Linked DNA regions of Homo sapiens: region 2 is linked to region 1. Evidence: fine-mapped expression QTL. Tissue or cell type: left ventricle. Region 1 holds a variant in brackets; the other region holds the start of a gene. All regions are shown on one strand. Distances are between the middles of the regions.

Evidence for each region. PIP is the estimated chance that this variant, and not a neighbour inherited with it, causes the effect.
Region 2: DIRAS3 starts here. The variant in region 1 is fine-mapped to the expression of DIRAS3 in left ventricle (GTEx, PIP above 0.99).

Annotation. Positions count from the first base shown.
Region 1 is chr1:68,010,214-68,023,125 of GRCh38, reverse strand. All of the region lies in intron 1 of GNG12-AS1 (GNG12, DIRAS3 and WLS antisense RNA 1), which reads right to left. Among named protein-coding and RNA genes, the nearest start is that of DIRAS3, 34 kb to the left of the region's middle. The variant A/G (reference allele first, on the strand shown) is at 7,444.
Region 2 is chr1:68,044,308-68,057,219 of GRCh38, reverse strand. DIRAS3 (DIRAS family GTPase 3) reads left to right here and starts at 6,593. Exons shown (of 2, transcript NM_004675.5): 1 at 6,593-6,672; 2 at 9,858-11,258. The coding sequence starts at 9,923. The coding sequence ends at 10,612. The region is part of intron 2 of GNG12-AS1 (GNG12, DIRAS3 and WLS antisense RNA 1); the gene reads right to left. It also overlaps the pseudogene ARL5AP3.

The sequences.
Region 1 (12,912 bases):
TTTTTAAGTTAGAATAATCAACTGACTTTTCTGTGCATATCAAAAATAAGAACTCAACATATGCTTAGAAATGCAATGACCCTCATGTTGCAGGGAAACTTGTCACTTTGTGGTTGACTTCATCAGGTCTGAAGCAGAAAAGCTTCCAGGGGCATCAGGTACCAGTAAAAGACCAAACAATTTCCTGGCAGAGTCAGGAAGAAAAGTTCACAAGTAACCTTCTTACAATACCGGAACACAATAGGAGAAAAGATGATGTCACTATAAGACTTAGAACTACAAGGATGAGGACAGGCCAGGAGCTGGAGGAGGCCATGGCATGTGCCACATGTACAAGAAGGAAGCAGATTCTAGATCCTGGAGTACAAGTGAGACACACAACAGGGTCCCTAATCCAGAGGGAGGTAATTTTTTTAATTTATTTATTTATTTATTTATTTTTATTTAATTAATTAAATAATTAATTATTTTTTGAGATGGAGTCTCACTCTGTCGCACAGGCTGAAGTGCAGTGGCATGAACTCGGCTCACTGTAGCCTCAGAGGGAGGTATTTTTAAAAAACATAATGTTTTTACTAATAACCAACAAATACTAGGCTCTCTGTCCATCCATTCATCTATCTGTCAAATATCTACTGGAAGCCTACTGGGTATTGGGGACTTTTCTAGGTGCTGAGGATACAGAGATGAATGTAACAAACTGGGTCTTTCCCTTAATAGAACACCATTCTAGTGGGTGGGTAGTATGGGGAGGAGGCACAATAATAAAATACCTAAATATCAGACATGCATACATACATACTATAACATCAAACAATGATAAGCATAATGAAGAAAAATAACACAGGATGAAGGAACCAAGAGTGGCCAAGGATGCTCTTCAGATAATGTGACCAGGACACTTTGCTAAGGATGCGATAAAAACATGATTGTGTGTAATTCCTACAACCGCCCTCTAAAGTGGGTATTAGTATTTTTACAGCAGAGGAAATGGAAAAGTAGTAGACTAACTTACTTGTCCAAGAATCAGACTCAAACCCAAACCTATCTCATGCCAACCCACATTTGATGCTTATGCTCTCCAATCCCAGAGATTTGGGCTGATTGGAGCTGAGCCAGGCAAAACCTGGCTTCTTGTTATTATTTTGTTCCAGCAAAAACATTTATTAAGTTTGTATGATGCATTAGACTCTGCACCAAGCTCTGGGAGATAGGCTCCATCCCTGCTCTAAATGAGGATACCGTCTGGTAGGAATGTGGACCATGAGGTAGGCACCTTGAAACAGTATCTGACATAATGTAGGCCTTTAGTCAATGTGTGCTGACTTGGTGAATGAGGGAAGAATGAACAAATGACTCTCTGTGTGCATGATGAGATGAGATTGGAGGGCTTGGTAAAAACACAGCTGCCTGGACACCAGCATGGAGAGGTGGCTTCAGTAGGTTTGGAAGAGGGCTCAAACATCTGTGATGTCCAAAGGTTGAAAGTTAATTCTGAGGTCCAAGAGTCAATTGTTACATATTTGGGAATTATGCAAGTTGGTTGCTAAACACGCAATTATTAACAATTATAAACAAGTAGATTAGATCAACTTATAATTACAGAAATTATATTTAAAACAAATATGCTCAAATTCAAAATACTCAGAATTCATCACTGTAATTCCCAATTACTTTACCACACTTAACTATTACCTGTGCTCTTGAGTTTTTCATCATTTTTATGTGTGTGGTGAAAATGCTCTATGATGTGGACGACTGCACACCCCTTTTGATCTCTCTGTTCAATGATGTCATGTTGGCGGCCTGAAACTGGCCACTGCAGGAGCATTTACACCATGGAAATTGCCAAACACTACTAATGAGGGCTTTGTCCTATTGGAGAGCCAGTTGTTTATTATTCACCAGCACACCATAGCACATAGAACTATAAGAACCACTGAGTGGGAAGAGGATGAATTCAAATCAACTGTGCCACTCACTAGCTCTGTGACCTGAGCAGCTTCTAAACCTCTCTGAGCCTAAGTTTTCTTAGGTCTAGACTAGAACTGATGTTATCTTTCCTCCTCCCTGACCCTCCCTGGCCTTGCCTCAGCCTAACTTAAAGGAGAAGGCCAGGTGCGGTGGCTCATGCCTGTAATCCCAGCACTTTGGGAGGCTGAGGTGGGCGGAACACCTGAGGTCAGGAGTTCAAGACCAGCCTGGCCAACATGGCAAAAACTCATCTCCACTAAAAATACAAAAAAGTTAGCCAGGTGTGGTGGCACGTGCCTGTAATCCCAGCTACTTGGGAGGCTAAGGCAGGAGAATTGCTTGAAACCGGGAGATAGAGGTTGCAGTGAGCCGAGATCGCACCACTGCACTCCAGCCTAGGGGACAGAGGAAGACTCCATCTCAAAAAAACAAAACAAAACAAAACAAAAAAAGTGGGCCAGGCATGATGTTTTACACCTGTAATCTCAACACTTTGGGAAGCCAAGGTGGGTGGATCATTTGAGGTCAGGAGTACAAGACCAGCCTGGCCAACATGGTGAAACCCCGTCTCTACTAAAAATACAAAAATTAGCCGGTCATGGTGGCACGTGTCTGTAATCCCAGCTACTCAGGAGGCTGAGGCAGGAGAATTGCTTGAGCCTGGGAGGCAGAGGTTGTGGTGAGCCAAGATTGTGCCACTGCACTCCAGTCCAGGAGGCAGAGTGAGACCCTGTCTCAAAAAAAAAAAAAAAAAAAAAAAAAAAAAAAAAAAAAAGGAGGAGAAAATGCAGGTAAAGCAATTATTTGCTTAGCATACAAGAGGCCTTCAGCAAAAGTCAGCCTTGTAGCTACTCTTGTAAAGCTCAAAGGAATGCTTTCACTAAGTGGTGACTCTTGTGCAGGAGAATTCAGCAGACAGAGAAGAAGCAGAGAGAAACCATTATGGTGATGGAGAAGCACTGAGTGGGCTGGGAGAGAAAGTGACAGAACATATTCTGGGGTGCTCTGAATGGTTCCACTGCTAGAGTAGTGGTTCTGAAACTTTCTAGTCTTGGGACCCCTTTGTAATATTAAAAATTATTAAGCACCCTCAAAATATTTTGTTCATGTGGGATATATTTCTTGGTATTTACCATATTAAATGTTGAAACTGTAAACATTTTTAAATCTGTATATTTATTAATTTAAAATAATAATAAACCCATTATGCATTATGTGCTAACAAAAATATCTTTTATAAAAAACAAGTATATTTTTCAAAAAAAAATAGTGAGAAGCTGGTATAGATTTACATCTTTGCAAATCTCTGTAATGTCTGGCTTAATCAAAGACAGTTAGCTGGGTTCTCATATCTACTTTTGCATTCCATCTGTTACAATAGCACACATCATGTAGCTTTTGGAAAATTCCACCATAAACTCATGAGAAAATGAAAGTGAATAAAGCAAATGATATGTTAGTATTATTATGAAAATAGTTTCGACCTAAGACTCCTTGACAGGGCACGGAAACCCCATTGGTCCTACAACCACACTTTGAGAACCTCTCATGTAGCACATAAAATTCAAAGTATATAACCGAAAAACTGATGGGTTGAAAAGATAAAACTTGAGAGAGAAGCAGGGGCTAGATGATATCTTATGGAGTTCATGAAGAGCTGTTGAGGGCTTAAAAGCCAGAGAGTGACAGGGCCACTTTTTTATTTTGCAAAGATCATGGCTACAATGAGAAAAGTAGATTAGATCAGCCAAGAAGGGGTTATGAAAGGGGGACCAATTAGGAGGTTGTTGCCCTAAAGCAGATGAGACATGAAAGTGGCCTGAATTGTAGTCAGGGCAGTCATGTGGGGGTAGGAAAGGTGGGTGGGTGACTCCTAAGTTTCTGACTTGGGCAGCTGAATGGATGGCAGGGACATAGAAGGAAGAATAGGTTTGAAATAGGAAATAATTAACTCTACTTTTTATTTGTAAATAGAATTTTCTAGAAGACTGTTGACAGATGGGGCAGAAAACAGAAGCGGCATTTGGGCAGGCAATAGTACAGCCTGGGAAAGCTCAAGCCAAAGCTTAGAGGGAACAACTTGATTTGACTGTGGTCACACAGCTTCTAAATGTGTTTCACATTTTTAACAGGATAACTGTATGAAAGGGATTATTGCAGAACCTGGCAAATAGTGGTCCCTAAATAAATCAGTTACTTTTTTTTTTATACCATCATTTGTCTATTTTTCTCTAATTTTCAAATGAATTAGTGCATTCATCTGGGATAATGCAATGCATGGGCTTAAAGTGAAAGACTTAATGTAATTTCCTTCAGGCTTGTGGCCAAGAAAATTAAGGTTGGAAAACATAAGGTAGCTATTCTGCAACTTGCTATGGAAAAATGGGAACAGTATAGAAATCTGTGAGCAAGATTATTAAGCATCTACCACCACAATGCTTCAGGAACAGAAGAAATCTGATGCCAAGTTGTACAGCTACAGCAGAGGGTTTGACCATAATCACAATGAATAGCACCAACATTGACCACACAAGTGATGAATGATATGGGTACGGTTTATAGTCAGGGACAGAGTGTCCAAAAGGAGAAGGGATATACATGGTCAGTAAAAGCTCATATAAATTTTGTCTTAGTCCATCCAGGCTTCTATAACAATACCATAGACAGGGTGGCTTATAAACAACAGAAATTTACTTCTCATAGTTCTGGAGGCTGGGAAGTCCATGATCAAGACTCTGACAGATTCAGTGTCTGGTGAGGGCCTGCTTCCTGGTTCATAGATGGCCATTTTGCTGCATCCTCACACAGTAGAAGGGGTTAGGGAGCTCTCTGGGCTGTTTCCTACAGAACACTGATCCTATTATGAGGGATTATACCCTCAGGACCCAATCACCTCCCAAAGTCTCCACTCTAAATGCCATCACATTGGGGATTCGGTGTTAATATATGAATAGTGGGGAGAGACATAAACCTTCAGTCTATAGCAGCTGCCATTCATTCATACATTACTCAACAAGAATTTCTTCAGTATCCAACTAGAGACAGAGCAAGGTGGTTAGGTTCCATGGGAGTTGTAAATTGGAATGAGACTAGGATCCTACCTTGAAGGAAGTTACAAGACAAATAAGAAATGTTTCTTGAGCTTTTACATTGTGCCAGACACTGTCCTAAGCATTTTACATATATCAGCTCTTTGGATCTTCACAACAAATGAATAGATTACATATTGCCACTGTAGTTTCCATTATACAAATGGGAAGATGAAGGCAATGAGGGATTAAGGCACTTGCCTAAGTCCCTAGAGCATGTGCCCAAGTTGGGTGGATAAACAGAAGTCTCTGAGAGGATGGTGCACACACATTGCATCTTTTGCAATGGGTGCAATAAGGAGCATGCCAAGGAACAGAGACTTACAGGTGGGAGCACATGAGGCTGGGCCAGGGAAGAGGCCACTTGTGGAGAATTTGGGAGGTGAGGAGAAAAGCCAGCCTAGCACAGAGCTGGTGCTTCATAAATATCTGTTGAATGGAGATTTAAGGAGAAAAAATACTAATAAAAATCCACAGATGGTATAACAGGACCAGATTTCTGAAGGCCGGGAAAGCCAGGTTAAGTAGTTTAACAATTATTTATATAAGCAGTGAGGAGCCAGAGAATCTTTAAGGGAAAGGATGTTATAATAAAAAGAATGGTTCAGAAAAATCAATATGGCAGCTCGTGTAGCACACAAATTGAAGGAGAAGGAGAATATGTTGTTAGGTGTTTTTGCAGTTCAAAGAAGAGATAAGGGCTGTCTTGTTTCTGTAAATGATAGTCTTTATCATTCTTTTCCTTATTATAAAGTAGGACATGGTCACCACAGGAAATTTGGAAAATATGGAAAAGTGCAAAGATGAAAAATACTAAAGAGGCCAATATACTGGGATAATTACTGTTAACATATTTATTTATTTTCAGTTATTTTTCTAGGCCTATATCCCCTAGATAGATAAAGAGATAAAGAATGGACAAATGGATGGATGGATGGATGGATGGATGGATGGATGGATGGATGGGATTGATTTAAAAAATTAAAATCATATTATTTGTAATTTGTAACCCTGGGTTTTCTCTCTCTTTGTGCATGTTGGGAATGTTTTCCACATGCCACTAAACATTTCTTTTAAGAAAACACATATTGGAATGATTGAAATATGATGTAAGCAATTTGTTAATTATTGGATATTTTCTTTGATTCCTGTTTTGTTTTTGTAGTTGCAAATAGTGCTTCAAGGAAGAACCTGTGTATAAAACTCAGTCCTGTCTCTGAATATTTTCTCAAGCCTGGGTTAAAAGATATGAGCCTTTTAAACCTTCTTGATCTGTTTTTCCAAATTACTTTCTGAAAAGACTGCAATAATTTGCATGTTTACCAGCCCTGGGCAAAAGTTCTACCAGAAGATTGCATGTTTTTTGAGTCAGTTTATGAGAACCTAGCCCTGAATCATGTGGATTATGCCAGACCACAGTTTCAAATAGGGTTTCAAATATTTTGACTTGGATTGTGTCAGATCAGGACAGTTTCTTTTTGAAGCCAGATTTGCTCAGTGGACCAGGGACTGGGTAAGTTACCACTTATGTTTTGGAAGTAGAAACGAAGTCTGACGTCATTGAGTTAGTTCACTGCCTGACAGAAAGGCATACAACTCAGACAAAGCACTTTAAAGAAATGGGAAGACTGGCTTTTCAGACACCTTATTGTCAAATTAGCTTCAAAATAGGTAATCCCTATTATGTGGCGCTTGACTACCCTGAATTTTTATCCCTTTTCTGTCTCCTCCTGATAAGCTGGGATTTGACTGATTCACTTTTTATTAACACCTCCACCAGAGGTCTGGAAGAAAGAGTAAAAGAAAAAAAAAATCAACGCTGCCTAGGCCTCCTTTTTGATTGGCAGAAGGAAAAAAAATAGAACATCAGTGAAGAGCATAATATTCCCTGTTCTCTTTGATTCCCAAATCAAAGAAAATTGAGAGCTTGTCTTAGAAATGATTAGGAAGGTTTTTCTTTCAATCACAAAAAGGGCCTGCCTGATTTTCTAGCTCTGGAGATTATATAACTCATCTTTATGAAACCTCGAACATACAGAAGGTATCATGTTTTTCCGGGAGGCTCCCCAGGATTTTGTCCCATCTCATTCACTTACCCTCGCAGCACGCCCCAGCTTATTTATCTATATAATGAACGGAGGCAGTGAATTAGATGAGTGTCAACCGTAACCACAATGATTGTTTAGTTCTAACATCTTAATCCAGGATGAATGACCCGTGGAGAAGACTTGGGGAGCAGTGGACCTTCCTTCCTTGGCTTTATCTATAGGCAAACTGTAGGTCCTTTCCATAAAGTCTACATGTATTCTAAGGGCTCTTCAAATATTACATCCAGTCCTCCTGAAGACAAGCACTGTTAATAGTGTCAATTTACAGATGA[A/G]GAAACTGAAGTACAAAGCATTTAATTCAGCCAAAGTCTCACATGCCTAGCTAGTAAGTGGCAGGGACACATTTCAGACTGAGTCAGCTTGGCCCCACAGTGAACGCTCTCAACATTCACAAACTGAGTGAGCCTGTCTCTGGACAGTTCAAATCCTGCCAACCCTACTTCCCAGTATCAACACCTCAAACAGATTTATGTCTCACTTTGCTCAAACCTAAAATAGGAACACAAAAACATACCTCACTGTGGTGGTGTGAACTATAAACAATGTATCGTTTGTAAAATATTCACTTATTGGCATTTGCTAGCTGTGTGACCTTGGTCAAGTTTACTTACTCTCTCTGTGCCTCAGTTTGCATATCTGTCAAACATAACAGTACCCATTTCAGGGGACTGCTGTGAAAATCACCTGTAAAGCACTCAGAATAGGACCTGACACAGAGAAACTACTCTTTAAGTGTTGTTTGTTATTAATATTATTATATTAGATGTCAGATTATTATAATAATATGTTTTGTTATATTATATTATAATTACATGCCAGGTACTGTGCAAAGCACTGGAGAGATAGCATTAAACAAGAAAGGTGGGTTCCTCCCATCAGGTCTAGTGAAGGAACAAATAATGACAAATGATAAAATGTTTGGAGTGTTACAAAGGAGAGCTACACATTGCTCTGGGAGCAACCAATGTAAAGCTCTAACCAGGACTGGGGATCAGGGAAGTCTTCCATAAGAAAGTAATTTAATATAGCAGATGCCAAAATCTTCATTTCTCCCCAGCGTGTTTTCCTTCCTTGCTCTTCCTATTGTCTCATCTCCTTTCTTCACCTTTACCACCCAATCCATGAACAAGATCTATAGGATTTAATTCCAAAGTGTACCCCACTTCTCTTCAATTCCCTTATCTACCAGATGAAGATATTGATATTAACCCCTCAAGGGTAGTATCATCTGAGTCACCAATATCTCCACATTGCATCCTGTACAGATCATCCAAAAGTTTTTGCCACTCCTCCTAACTCCCTCTCCCTCTCCCTGCCACCCTGTGATTTCTCCCTGTCATTTCTACCAGGCATTCTCCATTTAGCATCCAGGGTAATATTTTTTAAATGTAAGTGTAAATTAAAATGCTCCAATAGCTTCCATTTAGACTTAATATCTGAGCCCTGACCCATGGCCTAGAAGGCCCTAGATGTTCTGCTCCACCCACCTCTTTGATTTATCTTATGCTTCTCTAACTCCATCACAGTGTTCTAGGAACCATGACCTTTTTTCCCTTTGACTGTACAAAGCTCATCTCTGCCTCAGGCCATTGTATTTGCTGCTACCTCTCTTGGGAGTATCCTTTTTTAATCTTTCAGCTCACAGCTCATATCACTAAGAAGTGATCTAATCTAATGTATACCACCCTCTCCCACCCAACCACCACCCTCCAGAGAGCCTGGCCTGACCCATCTGATTACCCTTGTATTGCCTCTCAATACCACCGTTAAAGCATTATCTTGTTCCTTCATTGCCTGCTTGTTTTCCCTCTGTCTCCCCAGTGCTAGAATACGAGATTCATAGGACTTTGCCTTCCTATTTGCTACTTTCCCCATTGTCTAGAAAAGTGCCTGGCACATAGTAGGCACTCAATAAATATTTGTGATTTAAATGACTGAAGTGAATTTAACCTGGATCCTTGTATTAGCCCATTTTCACACTGCTATAGAGAACTGCCAGAGACTGGGTAATTTATAAAGAAAGGAGGTTTAACTGACTCACGGTTCTGCATGGCTGGGGAGGCCTCAGGAAACTTACAATCATGGCAGAAGGGGAAGCAGGCATATCTTACATGCAGCAGTCAAAAGAGAGTGAAGGGGGAAGAGCCCCTTGTAAAACCAACGGATCTCATGAGAACTCACCCACTCACTATCACAATAACAGCATGGGGGAAACTGCCGCCATGATCCAACCACCTCCCACTAGGTCTCTCTCTCAACACCGGCGATTACAATTTGAGATGAGATTTGGGTGGGGACACAAAGCCAAACCATATCAATTCTAAAAGAGGGATAAGAGATGGTCAGGTGGAGAGAAGAGGCAAGAATGTGCCAGGCATGGGTACAGTATGTGCAAAGGCCTAGGCTGGCAAGAGCATGGCATCTCTCACAAATGACAAAGGCCAATACAGCCAAAGCACAGACAGCCAGGGAGGCATGGTAAAAGATGAGGCTGGCAGATGAGTTATGCTGTCGACTGCTGACTTTTTTAAGGGCAGTGAGAAGCCCTTTTCTTTTTTTTTTTTCATTTTGATTTAGCAATTTCCTTTTATATATATATTTTATATATATATATAAAATTATATTTTAAGTTAAGCAACCTGTTCAGTGTTTTTGGAGGAACCTCTGTAGCCAATGCATGGATTTAAGGTGGATATATAATGTTGCAGAGCTTCTTTTCCTCTGCCTCAATTCTAACAAAAACTTTGTGGGGCAAATATGATTATTTCTAAACTACAGATTGAAAAAGCAGATTCTGAGAGCATAAAGAAGTTGCTGAAGGTCAGAATTTCTTTATTTTGCCTTGTCCTGGCTTGAAGCAGCCATGAATGAAGGAAACAGGGAGAAATGAAAAAGATCACCAAATGGAACTGATGCTCACAGGGCATCCTCTCCTCTCCTGAGGCAGGAGAGGGCATAGGGCCTAACACACATAGAACCTTCTCTTGTAATCAATATTCTTCTTCCTCGTGAAAAGACTATCAGGAATCTTGTCTCTTAAAGAGCTTCTCTGCTCTGTGAATTCTAACAACTGTCTTTACTGTAGAAACTTATCCTCCTGCTGTTCCTAGTTAAAATCTGAATCTTGGATGAATAGATATACCACTGGTCTGCAAGAGCAGTAAGGCCATTCATTCATTTGCTCGAACAATTTAGGTCCATCTTTTTCACCTGTAACTGATGAGGTCGCTGCCCTGGTTTGCTGCCACATCGCTTTTCTCCCTTCTTCTCTCCTCCAGAAGAAGGATGAGAGCCCAGAGCTGTGCCTGCTGCAGGTGGAAGGGAGCAGACAAGAAGCAGTTCCTGAGCACCGACTATGCGCCAGGCTTCATGCCAGGTGCTGTTCATCCCCTATCTCATTTCATCCATACACAGCAATTCCTTTCCTGTTTTGCTGATTAAGAGATCTAAGTGGCATTTTTTACATGAAAAATACTAAACATATTAGAATCAAAGTATATGTATTCTCTATTCTGACTGCCCCCGTGCTGGATCCAACCTCATCATCTTTCACATGATAAGAACCACTTTACAGTAACTTAGACTCCGGTCTTCCTCCCAACTATTGCATCCTCCATTACCACCAGAGTCATCTGGAAAAAGCACAAACATGATTGGGTTTCTCCTCTGCTTTGAAACATTCCCTGGCTCCCCATTGCCTGAAGTTAAGTTAACAGAGAGTGAGGGAGGCATGGTACAAGATGAGGCTGGCAGATGAGTCATGCTAAAGACTGTGGACTTTTGTGAGGGCAGAGAGAATCTCTTTTAAGGCTTAAATAACCTATCTAGTGTTAAGCAGACAGTAGCTCAGTAAAGAATGAAAACAATCATGCTTGAAGCACAATAATAAAAGAGTGCTATTAGAGCAATGGCAGAGGAGGGAGGTGATTCATTATACTTTTGCTGGGGGAGCAGCAATGGGGGCGGTGAAGACTTCACAGAAGGGGGTTGGGCTGGGTTTGGTGGTGAACAGAGGGGTCCCTCTAAAAAAATTGACAGCAACCTGCACAAAGCCACTGAAAGGCAAAAGCTGTGGCTCTGGCTGCCCCAAGGACACACAGCAGCCTATAGACTCTTTCTCTCAGGACTCTACAGAGCAGCATAGCAATAAGCAATGATTTGTTATAGCTCTGCTGTCAGGCAGCTTACCTAAATGTTAGCACCCACATGAACTGCATAATGATTTCTGAAACTCAATTTCTCCACTAATACAAGCAAACAGATTTAGTTACAGTTAGAGAGGGTTTGGGGGAAAGGCAGCCTCTAGAGAGAGGCCAAGACTACCCCCTCCATCGCCCCGACTCCGTCTCTGTGGAGCACTAAAGTACTGATTTGGATCAAGACCAAGGAGGATAGAGGCTCAGGGTTGGAGCAGAGATTTCAGTGTGATAAGGAAAATGATTTAAAAAAAAAACAACCCTGGAATCTGAATGTTAGATCTTCAGCTTTCCCTTTTTTGTCTTCTACATTTGGCTTTGGAAATATCTCTTCTCTCATGAGGCTAAGGAAGGGGTATCCATGTCCTGGGAAGGTCAAGTAGACACCACAAGGGTACCACAACATAGGGGATCAGGGGAAGGGAGGCTTCATTTGTCTTCTGAGGCATTTCCTAGCCTAGACCTTAAGCTAAAAGTGCAAAGAGAGTCCTTAACATTTTCCCAGTTCTGCTCATTGGGACTAAGAGCTCTACAGAGAAATTAGGTTCAAATCACAGCTGATAATGAAAAGAAACCATTTGTTCAGGTTCATTTTCTATGTATCTTGCCCTTGAAACTTAGCAGTCCAAGGTCAGCGGTAGTTGGAGATTGTCCTTTGTCCCAAAGTTTAGAGTTGCCACCTCCCAGGACCACATAAAGAAACAGGAGGACTCAAATTCAGGTCTTGTGATTGATTTCTCTGGGGCATTGGCACTGCTAACACAGGAGCCCACAAAAGGCTCTAGAAGCACGGGCAGGGAAGCAGAGTCAGCTTCAACTCCTGCATTCATCCAGGAGCAGAGCTCCTACTGATAAATACAAATTGATGCATTCTAGGCCACCTGGGCCTCTTGGATTGCTTACTCCTGTTCTTGCAGCTTCTCTAAGCTTGGGCATGCATTTAGTCAGTCCATAAGTGTTACTTTTCGGTAGACAGGTTTTTGCAATATACTCCTAAGGAAATGAGATATGCTCATCTTCCAGAGTATTCTAACTCACTTCCTGTGGTCTTTGTTTTGTGCAGGAAATACAAGGATAAATGGAAGGCAATTCAGATAACCAGGGCTTTCAGCATGGGGCTTATTGTCAGAACTTGGAAAAAAACGTATTTATTGAGGGAAAAAGGTACAGATAAGAAAATGGCAACTCCAAGAGGTTAATAGATGATCGGTAGACGGATGTAATGTAAAATGTGAGACAGAGTATTACTCTTACTCTATATACCAACCCTACACTGTCTGTGTAACTGAACCTACAATTATATATAAATACATTTATAAATATTTACTTTCAAAATATTTATGGTAATTCAACCCTCCTCTTCAAACTCAGTGTTATAGTGCTAATTCAGGCAATTAATATCTCTTTAATTTGTCTATTACAAGAACCTCCAGCTCCTTCTTCCTCTACCTAGCCACCAGAGGGTGTATTTATCTAAAGCAAGCATGATCATATTACTACCTTGCTTAAACCATTCAATGGCTCTCTGTGATTCTATTTTACCTA
Region 2 (12,912 bases), 34 kb before region 1:
CTTGGGGGAGGCCAGCAGAGCAAGGGGTGCTCAGGTTGGACCAGCCCCAACTGATGGGCAAGATTGCCCTACAGAGTTCAGGACTAACAGTTCCCCTGGGGCTAAAGTCTCCTATGGAAGTAAGTTGATCCAAGGGGGATGGGTGTCCCTGGCCATGCTCCACTACAGATGTTCCTGCTCCAAACCCTCTGTGCTCCACATCAGCTGGCTTGCTGCCCCTACCAGTTCTCTAAGTAGCCCTTCCTGCCAATTCAAGTGTCCATGGTGGTTGAGGGGTCTCCTCCTGGTGGGGTTCCAGAGGCCTATGGCAAGAATGTGTTGCTCCTTGCAAGTTCAACTCACCCATGCCCTCAGAGCCACTGGGGTCAAGGAAAGAGTCCGGGTGCACGGTAGCCCCATAGAGTGTTCCCAGGTTTCTCCCCACTTCAGCCCAGCTTCTGTGTCTTCCCTACATCATTTTTGGAGGGAAGTGGTAGGGGCAGCCTTCCCTCTGAAAATCTGTTAGGAGTATACCAGCTGTCTCTGTCCCTTGGTAGAAGCTATTCTACCTGGCTATGTCTAGTCAATCATCTTGCTGGGCTAACATTATCTTGTTGGGAGAGCTGGCTTTACAAAGACTAGTCAAGTAATAAGAAAAAAGTTTAAAAATCATAACACACACACACACAAAAAAACCCACTAATATAATCAGTCTGGTCTAAATACTGGTGCTAAACCATGAACCTACTGTTGAAGGTAACCAACTAAAGAAATCAAAAGACCATGTAGGAAACTGGTTGAGTCTTGAGTCCTGTTGTAGCCATTGGGTAAAATTTTATGACTGGGTTGAATTACAGCAGAGAATGTCCAGCTCTACAACAGGGACGATGAGTATAATTTGAACAAAAGATTATGTTAGAATTATGACTGAAAACATACTCGATTTCTATGAATTTATATAATTTTTGAAACATTCATGTCAACATGTACATAAATGTAACTAAAAGAAAATCTAGTATCACTTATTTGACGATGTTTTTATACAATTCACCAAATAAGCCTAGTCATCTCTACAAAATGAGAAATATGTCTTTTAAGGTTTTCCAGGAGCCTAACTGAAAAAATCTCAAAGTTAATTTTAGGTCAAAAAGTCTTAAAATAGGATTTGACCTGGGAGACATTTGTCAAAGATGTTAAAAGGTTCAAAACAGAATCACAGGTTGCTGTGAAATAACAGTTATTCATTTAACCAGTGTCATAATCAAAAGACTTCAAAAGCAATAAGAAAGTCACATGGATTTAGAAACCTTAACCCTTTTAAAACTCATTTTTTTTTAAGTAATCAAAAGCCTAATAAAGGTAACATAGAAAGTTAGTTTGCTAAAACATAAAATCTTTGTTTCTTAGACTCGCTACCAAAAACGTAAAGAAAGCCCTCTTCGGTGTGATTGTTTTTCATTATGGGAAGCTCATTCAGATAACGTGGAAGTTGAACCTGATGAAAAGGGAACTTGAATGTCATGAAACACAGGAAGAATATGTCCAAGGTTATAAGTATACACTATATTATAGAGGAATATAAACAAGAAAACTAGTACCTTGAGCAGGGAACTACATGGTTCTTAGTAACAGCATGCTGTTACTTACCACAGTAACTTTTCTGGTTATATGGAAAAATTCAGACATATCAAGAAAAGCCAAGAGCACAAAATTAAGTTATACTGGAGAAAAACGCTGCTTTTCTACGCCTTCAAGATAAATATTCTAATGTCAGGCCAAAACAGCAATGTTAGAACCAAAAAAAGCCAAAGAGGAGAATGATCATCTCAGGCCTTCTCCAGGGGAGAAAAAAATGAAGGAAATGACATATTGACCTGCAAATCATGTACAGCAAGAAACTGTAAAAGATGAACTTCTGCAATATGAATTTGAGAAATAAAAAAAAAAAAACAACTGTACCTCAAGGAATGAAATTACCACTTTAAATCAAGAAGACAACATTTTTAACCCAAAACTAGGAAAATTAAATAGATGTCAAGGAGAAGATACCTGTTTAAAAACAGAGTATAAATTTAAAAATCAAAACCCCTTAAAATTTTATTAAAATCAGATAATACTTCAAGAAATCTTGTTGTTTTAAATATAAGGAACCAGACTCTGGTTCTGTATCAGTGCCTGTCCCCTGGTCCCCTACCTGAGAACGTTTAATTTTTAGAAAAACACACAAACAATTTGTTTTTAATTCCAGCCAAGTCAATAACACATAAAACTTCTTTTATTAGCTCATCCTTTATTAGTCCTCTTCAACTTTAGACCTTTTATTTTCCTAACCCCTACCTCTTAGTCCTATAATTTTTCTTTTTTTAAAAATGTGGGATAACCAATCATTTTATCTTATCTGACTATGATACAGACATTTATTTTGTATATATGATTTAACATAAAATTTTAAGACTTTAAATTACATGAGTTCATTTATAAACATTTATTTCATTTACAGTTAATTTATTTTTTAACAATTATACCTATATTTCTTACAAAAATTGAGATATTAGATGGAGCTGGTCATTATTTCAAGTTTTTTTAAATTAAATAATTATATAGCCTGTTAACATGAGGTGTTTACCCACATAAGAGCCATAAAGTTAAATACATGGGTATCTGTAGATAACTCAGAAAATACAACTTTTGTTTTTTTCCTTACAGGCAAAGGCTCACTCTGTTGCCCAGGCTAGAGTGCAGTGGTGTGATCATAGCTCACTCTAGCCTTGAACTCTGGGCTCAAGGGATCCCCCCTCCTCAGCCTTAAGAGTAGCTGGGATCACAGGCACATGCCTGGCTAATTTTTAAATTTTTTTATGGAGATTGGGTCTTGTTATGTTACCCAGGCTGATCTCAAACTCCTGGGCTCAAGTGATCCTCCCACCTTGGCCTCTCCAAGTTTTAGCATTGCAGGTGGGAGTCACTACCCAGCCACAGCTGTTTTTGTTAAATAATATTAAATTAATCTTATTTATCAAAGAATTGCATAAATATATATCACTTTGCTTTAGGCCTGGTTTATAGCTTCATGACCTTAATAGCACAGGCAAATATAAAACTGACCAGTGCTGGTGCTCAGAAACTGATATGCCAAAACATGGTATTTGACACGCTAAACTAAAGAAGCCTCAAGGTCTCTCTGACTTTTCCTCCAACCCCACCATCCTTCCCAAAGAAGCTGAAGTTCCTTTATCTGCCTAACAACCAGACCCACCAAGGAGAGCAATTGTTGGTTCTCCTCCTCCTGTTATCTCATCTGTTAAAGAAAAGAAGACCAAAATGTAACCACACCCAAGCAGACCTTTATAGAAGTACAATGACTGCCTCCAAGGATTATTTAAATTCCAAAGAAAACTATTTACAAGTTAATATCTGTTGCTCAATCCAATCATTCTCTCACCAATCATTCATTGCCCCTCAATAAATTCCTCTTCTCCTCCCATAATCTGTTTTACCAGAATCCAAGCCCCCCATTCTTTCTGTAATTTCAAGACTAGTGTATAAACTTCTATAACTCATTGAGAAGTTGGGTCTTTATTCTGAAAGCTCCTGTGTATACACATTAAATACATTTGTATGTCTTTTCTCTTACTAATCAATGTGGCCCATGTCAGTGATTTTCCAGCAAATCTTTGGGGGGCTGAGAGCCATAGCCCCCACACCAGTAAACACAGGCAAAAATATATATTGACAATTAGAAAGACGTTTTTAATTTTATTTTATCAACAATTTTAAAACCAATTACTTTTTTAAAGATTAAGTTACATGAACTAAAAAAATTAGGTTAATTACTATGTTTTTGTGTGAGTGCCCATCTATTTAAACCAATCAGATTAACATTTCTTAAGGGATTTTTGGCCTACCACACTGAATTTTATTATGTAGACATAACATACAACATAATACATGTACATATGTGTAAATATATTTAAACAAATATACACATAAAGGTCTTCTAGCTTTTATTTTAGAATTTTAGTTGTGAGATAGTAAAACATATAAACTTGCTGGTTTATAGAGAACAGTTGGATCCAAATTATTTTTCTGGTAAAATGAGATAAAGGCTATGAATCAAATTTTGGTAAAACAGTTTGAGTTAATTACCAGTGCAGGGACCAAAGGGAAACTTCAGTGAAGGCTCACTGAAAAATCAACCTGCAAAAGGCAGATTAATTGGAGAAAAAGCATACAAATGTATTTAATATGTATACATGGGAGCCTGCAGAATGATGACCCAAGCATATAGAGGAAATTGTCTATTTTTAACTTAGGATTAATAAAATATAGACAGCAATGTAGAAATATGATTGGACAGAAAGAGTATGAGCTAATGCCAATAAAATGAGTGGGGAAACCCAGTGAAAAAAGCCAAACTCTGTAAAATATTTAGAGGTTTATTCTGAGCCAAATATGAGTGACCACGGCCTGTGACACAGCATCAGGAGGTCCTGAGAACATGTGTCCAAGGTGTTTGGACTATAGTTTTCTTTTATACATTTTAGGAAGACAGAAGATACAGGCAAAAACATCAGTCAATATATGTAAGGTATACATTGGTTTGACCTGGAAAGCCGGTACATTTTGGAGGAGGAGGGGTTTGGCCAGTGGTGGCAGGAGGGAGGTTGTGGAAGCCAGGGTTCTTGTTACATATGTGAAGCCTGTAATATGCTTCAGAAAGAATAGATGGCATATGTACCTCAAAAGGTAAATGACCTTAAACGGTGTCAGACTCTTAGTTAAATCTCTCCCGGATCAGAGAAAGACCTGGAAAGGGAAGGAGATTGTCCACAGAACACAAATTTCCCTCGCAAAAGATAGCTTTGCACAGGACCATTCCAAAATATGTCAGAAATATATTTTGGGGTAAAATACTTTGATCGCCCTTAGGGCTGCTACCTGTCATGTGATGCTATACCAGAATCAGGTTGGAATTTGTTTTGAGACAGGTTCTCACTTTGTTGCTCAGATTGGAGTACAGTGGCTGTGATCACGGCTCACTGCAGCCTCGATCTCCTTGATGTGGGAGGCTCAAGTGATCCTCCCACATCAGCCTCCCAAATAGCTGGGACTACAGGCGGCCACCACCACACTGGGCTAAATTTTTTTAAAGTAGAGACAAGTTCTCCCCATGTTGCCCAGGCTGGTCTCTAACTCCTGGCCTCAACCTCCTTATTCTCTAGGATTACAGGCGCCAGGCTAGACCTCACAGGTCTTTAGACTTCTACGCACCAGGTACCTGGTAGGGGGAGGGATTATAGTGGCAGAAGAGCAGTACCAGTGGCCCACACCACACACCCTGGCCTCAGCTGGCTGGGGCACACAAAACCAGGTGCTACCGTCAACGACTAGGCCCATAGGGTACTGCTGTCAAAACCTGCTGCCAACAACTTCCACACACTCCCCAAAACGCTCGGTAGGCGGTGGTGCGCAGCTTTCAATGCATCCGCCGCCAGGCGCTCACAGGCAAGGGAGAAAGAAGCCAGACGGAGCTCGGAGATGTGGAGGGCAGACGCAGGCGCATTTGGAAAAGGGACTGGCGGTGGGAGGCGCAGAGGGAAAAAGGAACGACACAATCGGGCTTCCTAGCCGCTGGCGGACCCGATGGGGCGTCCTGCGAGGGTTCGGCGAGGGTTCTGCCAGGATAGTAGCATTGCGCCCAAGGAGTGAGAGGCACCCGGGGCTACTGGAGCCAGACCCTCAACCCGCCCTAGTGGGAGGCGAAGAACAACGAAAGCCTCGTATTCCCATTTCTCTAATGGCTAATGACATTAAAGGTTTTCATATGGTTATTTGCCATCTGCATATCTTCAGTGAAGTGTCTGTTTATGTCTTCTGACTATTTTCTAATTGGATTTTTAAAAATAATTGATTTTTGAGTTATTTACATATTCTAGATACTGGTTGTATGCCAGATATATGGCTTGTAAATATTTTCTCCTAGGTAAACCTTTTCAGTATCGTTACAGGGTCTTTCACAAAGCAAAAGTTTTAAATTTATGGAGTCTAATTCATCAACATTTCTTTTTACCGGTCTTGCCACTAATGTCAATTTAAGAACCTTTTGCCTAGCCTTAGACAATAGTTTGTTGTTTTTTAAAACCGTTTTGTAATTTTACTCGTCACAGTTATATCTAGCCACTTAATTTTTATGTAAGGGTTATTTTTGGCGGGGGGGAATCTATAGATGTCCTGTCTTTTCAGTATCATTTGTGGAAAAGATTATCTGTCCTGCATTAAACTGCTTTTGGACTTTCGTCTAAAATCAGTTGGACCGGTTTTTGTTGGCAAAGTTTTGCCTGAAGCTTATTCCAACAGGTGAGAAAAAGTCCACAGTTTAACAGTTCCTCCCCAACCTGTAACCCCGCCTTGAACTTCTGGACTAGCCCCTCGATTGTTGTAGATGCCAAGCGGACCTCGCGCCGCTCTGCGTTGGGCCAGCCCCTCACAGCTGGTTTCTTACCACGTATTGCGCAAGCGGAATCTATGCCTGTTACCCACACTCCCTGCGCCCCCGCACCCCGCTCCTGTGCGCAAGTCGGAATATAAAACCGCGGAGGAGTGAGCTCTTGGGGTGTCCAGTTGGTTGCCGCGGCAGTCTCTCCGAGCAGCGCATTTGTCTTCTAGGCTGCTTGGTTCGTGCCTCCGAGAAAGGTAAGTCTTTCTTTCGCTTTTTTAGGGGTACTTGAAAACAACAAGTGTCAGACAAAGCAGCAGATGCTGTTGCGCAGTAGAAGTTTATGGGCGAGTTGTCCCTGAAACTGGAACCAGGTCTTTCTTGGCGCGATTACGCAAGAACCACCCGCAGCCCTGCGGGCTCCTGGCAGGTCCTGCAACTGCACTTTGGATAGTCCCGTTGGGAAGCTAGCACTTTTTAATATAGAAGAACGAGGTTTGATAAGTGTGCGAGCTTAAAGGTTGACACAGTGTCCACTATTACAGCTGCGTAGGTAGCTAGTGTTCAGGAAGTAATAGTGGAGTCATGTAGTGTGAAAGTAAGATTGAAATGGGCGAGGAGGGTAGCAGCCGCCACAGCCACCAGAGAGAAACCTGACCTTGCAGGTGCGTGGTGATGTCCATGAGCCAGGCTGGTGCCGCAACAGCAGCGGCGGGACCTTGAGCTCCGCACGGCCGCTGGGTTTGGACGCCCTCTGGTTCCTGGAAACTTTCACCTCCCCCTCAGCCTGAGGCCAGGTGGCCTGGGAAGGTGGAAGGAGTGTGGAGGGGAGTGGGGGGGGGGGTCCACTGCCTGAGAATGAGAATTCTCTTCACATCTGGAAACTTCAGTTATCACGTGTGTCCTTTACCAATTTTTTTTCTTTTATTTTCTTTTTGATAGAGACGGCGGTCTCCCTATGTTACCCAGGCTAGTCTTGAACTCCTGTGCTTAAGCGATCCTCCCACCTTGACTTCCCAAAGTGCTGGAATTACAGGCATGAGCCAATGCGCCCGGCTGCTTTACCAATTTTCTATGAATGAATTTGTACATACATCCCCTAGAGCAGGAAGTAATGTAAAACAGAATAATTAGTAATGCACATTTCCTAATGTGGGATGTTGGTGGCCAAGAGATATTTGGTCTTTACTGGAACTCTTGATACTAACATGGAGTTTATAATAGTTGTGGAGAGTGCAGACAAGGCTAGGATTTCTGTGACTAGAGAACTCTTAGTGCGTGAAGACCTAAGGAAAGCTGGATTGTTGATTTTTGTTAATAAATAAGATGTGAAAGATTGCATCACTGTAGCAGAAATCTCCTAGTTTTTTAAGCTAAATTCTATTAAAGGTCATCATTGCTAAAGGAATTGTGCCCAGGATTTGGATAGCTGATGTCATTACTTAATATTAGATGATATCAACTAACCACATCTCATAGACTGGAATAAAGTGCTAGATTTTACCTGAAAGCTGCAAAAATGAATGGTTTAGATATATGTATGTATTTATTTTATATCAATTTCAAATATTTACTGTATTAACCTCCCTGGCCCCCTTTAATCAAGAATATAAAATCATCTACTTAAATTTTGCCACTTAAGTTTAGAACACTCTTAGAATCACACTATCTTAAAGAAGCCAGACTAGAATTAGAAGCAAGTTAAGTCTGAAGATATAACAACCAGCAACAACATTTTTTTTTTTCAAATGAAAACTCTAATATGGGGTGGGTATGTTGTGTCACACCTGTAATCCCAACACTTTGGGAGGCTGATGCAGGAGGATCACTTGAACACAGGAGTTCAAGACCAGCCTGGACAACATAGCAAAACCCTGTCCCTACAAAAAATAAGAAAATTAGCTGGGCATGGTGTCACATGCCTGTAGTCCCAGCTACTCGGGAGGCTGAGGTGAGAGGATTGATTGATCCCAGGAGGTTGAGGCTGCAGTGAGTCATGATCGCATGACTGCACTCCAACCTGAGGGACAGAGCAAGACCCTGACTCAAAAAAAAAAAACAAAAAAAAAAAAACCACCACCAAAACTCTAATATGGACATATTACTCTCTCATGGGACTTGCACATTCTAAAAAGGGTCCTTTTCCCCAGTACTGGGAGAGTATGTGTTCAACTACGCAGCCAGCAAGACAGGCTAGTTTATATAGGGAGTGTGCTATTCACAAAAAGCCTCTCTTCTCTTTCTGGTATTGTACATGACACAATCATAGCTGTACCTGAAGAGAAGTGCATTTTAAGGACCATCATCACCTAGAAACATGTATAAATTTCTATACCTAGTGCCACAGGAATGACATTGCCTTGTACTATTCCTACCTCTGTCCAGAGGCCAGCTATGTGGTCTGTCTGCATGGTGCCTAGAACTTTTTCCATCTGACCTAGGATGCTTCTGAAGCAGTCCCCCTGGGCAGCTGTCTGGTATTTAGGATATACCTGTGAGAAAAGTTTCTTACAAACCTAATCTACTATGTTTATTCCTGAACTCAAAAAGTTCATTGACTGTTCAAATCCTGAAATTTTCTCTATTTCCATAAGGCTGAATTAAAAGTACTTTGTTAAAGGTAGTAGCCATGGCAAAAGAAAAACCACTGTTCTGTAGAAAAACTCATTCAATATTTACAATCTTTTCTAATCAGAGATTAGATCCTGAAGAGAAAGGTTCATATATATATATATATATATATATATATATATATTTTTTTTTTTTTTTTTTTTTTTTTTTTTTTACTCCACTGTCATTGTGACTAAGGATTCATGAACTAAGACCCCTCCCTCAGCTCTTGGTGGCACATGGTGACAGCATGCTCAGAGCAAAGGTGCTCCCCATGCCTCTTCTGGGGCTGCACTGACTGCAGGTACCTCCCCTCTCTACATCCCACACCACTGATACCAAAAACCCCCTCCTTTCTCCTGTACTGATGACTCTGTAGCTTTAACCAGGGCGGCGGTGTCACTCTAAATGTCACCTTGGCATTCAGCCCCATAGAGTGGGGAAAATTCCCTCACCTGTTTCTCTTTGACTGTTCAGTCCTCTTCAATTAAAATCTTAATTTTACAAGCGAGGAAATGAGAGTGTTTCTTGTAGGGGTGTAGTGAGAATTTAATAAAACAGTTTAAGGAAAGAAAACAAAAGGTAGTATTGCTGCACTTTCTAGATGGTAAAAAGCAAACCACCATGTCTGTTTAATATATATCACCTGCTGGTCCCTCGGTCTAGCAGGCTGAACTGTGTGCCTGGGAATTTTCTTCTCGCTGTGTGCACCCCTTTACGTCACAGGGTGGACTCTCTTCAGAGTCCTAGTGGAGCAGCTGGCCAGGCTGACATGATCTGACAACATTGTAGGTTACCACTACCATCTCTCACCGTCTCACTTTCTTCCTAGGGGTCTCCTGCTGCCAGCTAAGTGTGGGAGAACTTGTGCACGTATCTCCCCTCCGAATCCCAACGATGGGTAACGCCAGCTTTGGCTCCAAGGAACAGAAGCTGCTGAAGCGGTTGCGGCTTCTGCCCGCCCTGCTTATCCTCCGCGCCTTCAAGCCCCACAGGAAGATCAGAGATTACCGCGTCGTGGTAGTCGGCACCGCTGGTGTGGGGAAAAGTACGCTGCTGCACAAGTGGGCGAGCGGCAACTTCCGTCATGAGTACCTGCCGACCATTGAAAATACCTACTGCCAGTTGCTGGGCTGCAGCCACGGTGTGCTTTCCCTGCACATCACCGACAGCAAGAGTGGCGACGGCAACCGCGCTCTGCAGCGCCACGTTATAGCCCGGGGCCACGCCTTCGTCCTGGTCTACTCAGTCACCAAGAAGGAAACCCTGGAAGAGCTGAAGGCCTTCTATGAGCTGATCTGCAAGATCAAAGGTAACAACCTGCATAAGTTCCCCATCGTGCTGGTGGGCAATAAAAGTGATGACACCCACCGGGAGGTGGCCCTGAATGATGGTGCCACCTGTGCGATGGAGTGGAATTGCGCCTTCATGGAGATTTCAGCCAAGACCGATGTGAATGTGCAGGAGCTGTTCCACATGCTGCTGAATTACAAGAAAAAGCCCACCACCGGCCTCCAGGAGCCCGAGAAGAAATCCCAGATGCCCAACACCACTGAGAAGCTGCTTGACAAGTGCATAATCATGTGAGCCCTGGGCCTTAAGAGCCAGCTCTTCCTATCCTGTAGCGTGTAGAAAACGTGGACTCATTTCACTATGTTACATGTACATGGTTGATTTTGTGCTGTTGTTTGGACTGTAACATCCATGTTGTCAATACGTATACCTTGTAAGTGGATAACTTTTCTTTTTCCCAGGCCAGAGAATTCAAATTGTTAAAACATTGGCATTTGAAGAGGAGAACAAAATGTAGCATGATGTATTTAAAGTAAGGCCTTTAGTAATGAATGTAATGAGAGAAAATGTTTTGAAAAGAACAAAACATCAAAATGAATAGAAAGAAAAATTGGAAGGCGTCCTTTTGGTAACCCGATTATTGTGTATTACCTTTAAATATTTCACATCCTGTAAGTGCTTAATCATATCTTTTAATTGTGTATTTAAGAAAAGTGTTTTCACAACAAAAGCTTTTGATAAATTGCTGCGTGACATATACTAAATAAAAAAATGAATATGTTGATCATTAGGGGTGTGGGAGCAGAGAAAATTGTGAAAGTGACTCTCACTAAAGATGTTAGTAGTTTCTCATGTCATTTAAAAATGTTTGAGTATTCTGCATAGCAGTTTGTAAAAGTGTAACAGCTTATTGACTTAATAAAGCTTTTCCTGCATGCAATCAGCTGTAAGAATTTGTCTCACCAGAAAACAAAACATTGCCCATTGTATTAAAATTTAAACCATATCTGTTAAAAGTTTCCAATAAGAACTTCACACATGGATGTCCTTGCCATGTTGAAATTATCCAATATGGGAGGGGGGTGTTTTAGGGAGGTCTCTGCAATACAGAGCTGTTTTGTGTCTTTCCTGAACTGACATCCCGAAGAACTCCAGGCATCTTTGAGGAAGATGGTCACAGTGTTGCTGTCTCAGAGGAAGCGGGTGAAAAGCAAGCCTCTGCCTTCTGCCTCTTCCTATATTCTGAAATACTGGATATAGGCAATAGGGAGCAGAATGAAAGACAAGGGGAGGAATGATATTTGAGAGACTCCCCCATAAGGGAGTTTTTAAAGAGATTATATTTGAACATAATTTTTTGAGCGAGGGAATAAAGTATACATATCCTTGCTTTTGAGAGTTTTTTTTTTTTTTTTTAAATTGGGAGAGGTTCAGGGGAGGCTCTTAATCTAGTGATTTTTTTCCCCACAAAATATTATTGAACAAATATCTATTGAACAATGTATGTGTTTCTAGACGAGAAGCACATTGTTGAGAAGGAATCGTAAACATGATTTTTTTTTTTTTTTTTTGAGACGGAGTCTCTTTCGCCCAGGCTGGACTGCAGTGGCGCTGTCTCGGCTCACTACAAGCTCCGCCTCCCGGGTTCACGCCATTCTCCTGCCTCAGCCTCCGAGTAGCTGGGACTACAGGCGCCCGCCACCACTCCCGGCTAATTTTTTCTATTTTTAGTAGAGACGGGATTTCACCGTGTTAGCCAGGATGGTCTCGATCTCCTGACCTCGTGATCCGCCTGCCTCGGCCTCCCAAAGTGCTGGGATTACAGGCATGAGCCACTGCGCCCGGCCGTAAACATGATTTCATGGTACTATAGACATTTTCAAGCTTAGAAGATCTATTCAGTGGCTCGTTTTTAAATAATTATTTTAAAATTTCCCTATTCATTTTCATAGCAATTATTCTCAACCACTTGGAAAATACCCAAATGGTTCTACCATATAGCTTCTTATGAATTCTGTTCCTAAAAACCAATTCTTTGCTGAAGTACCTAATGTAGTAAATCTACTTCTAAAAGAAACTACTCTACCTTGGTTATTCTCCAGGGTAATTCTCCTTCAAAATGTATTGCATTTATTGTTGCTCCTAATAGGTGAGCAAACGGATTATTAAATTCAAGTGGCAAATACTAACCTTGAGAAAAGGAAGAACATGTTTTTAATGTTACAAGTAATAGTTTAAAAAAGAATTTTTGTTCCTGGGGTAACACCTTTATATAAGTAGGTAGTTGAGAATGATTTTATTTTCCATTAAAACTTGTGCTAAATGACAGGATTTTACCCCTCTACTTCTATCTTTGCCCAAATAGGAAAAATATAATCAGAATAATTACATTTTTAAAGACAATCTAATTACAACGTTTTTCCCTCCCAATAACCAACTAAACACATCAAAGGTCTCTTATGTTTCAGTTCAAATCAAATAACATGCATTAACTTTACAGTTCTCTGACTTCTAAATACCTTTGCTCTTGCTACTTCTGAGCCCTAAACACTTATCAACAGGTTGGATTTCAGCCAGGGAATCAGAATATTTTT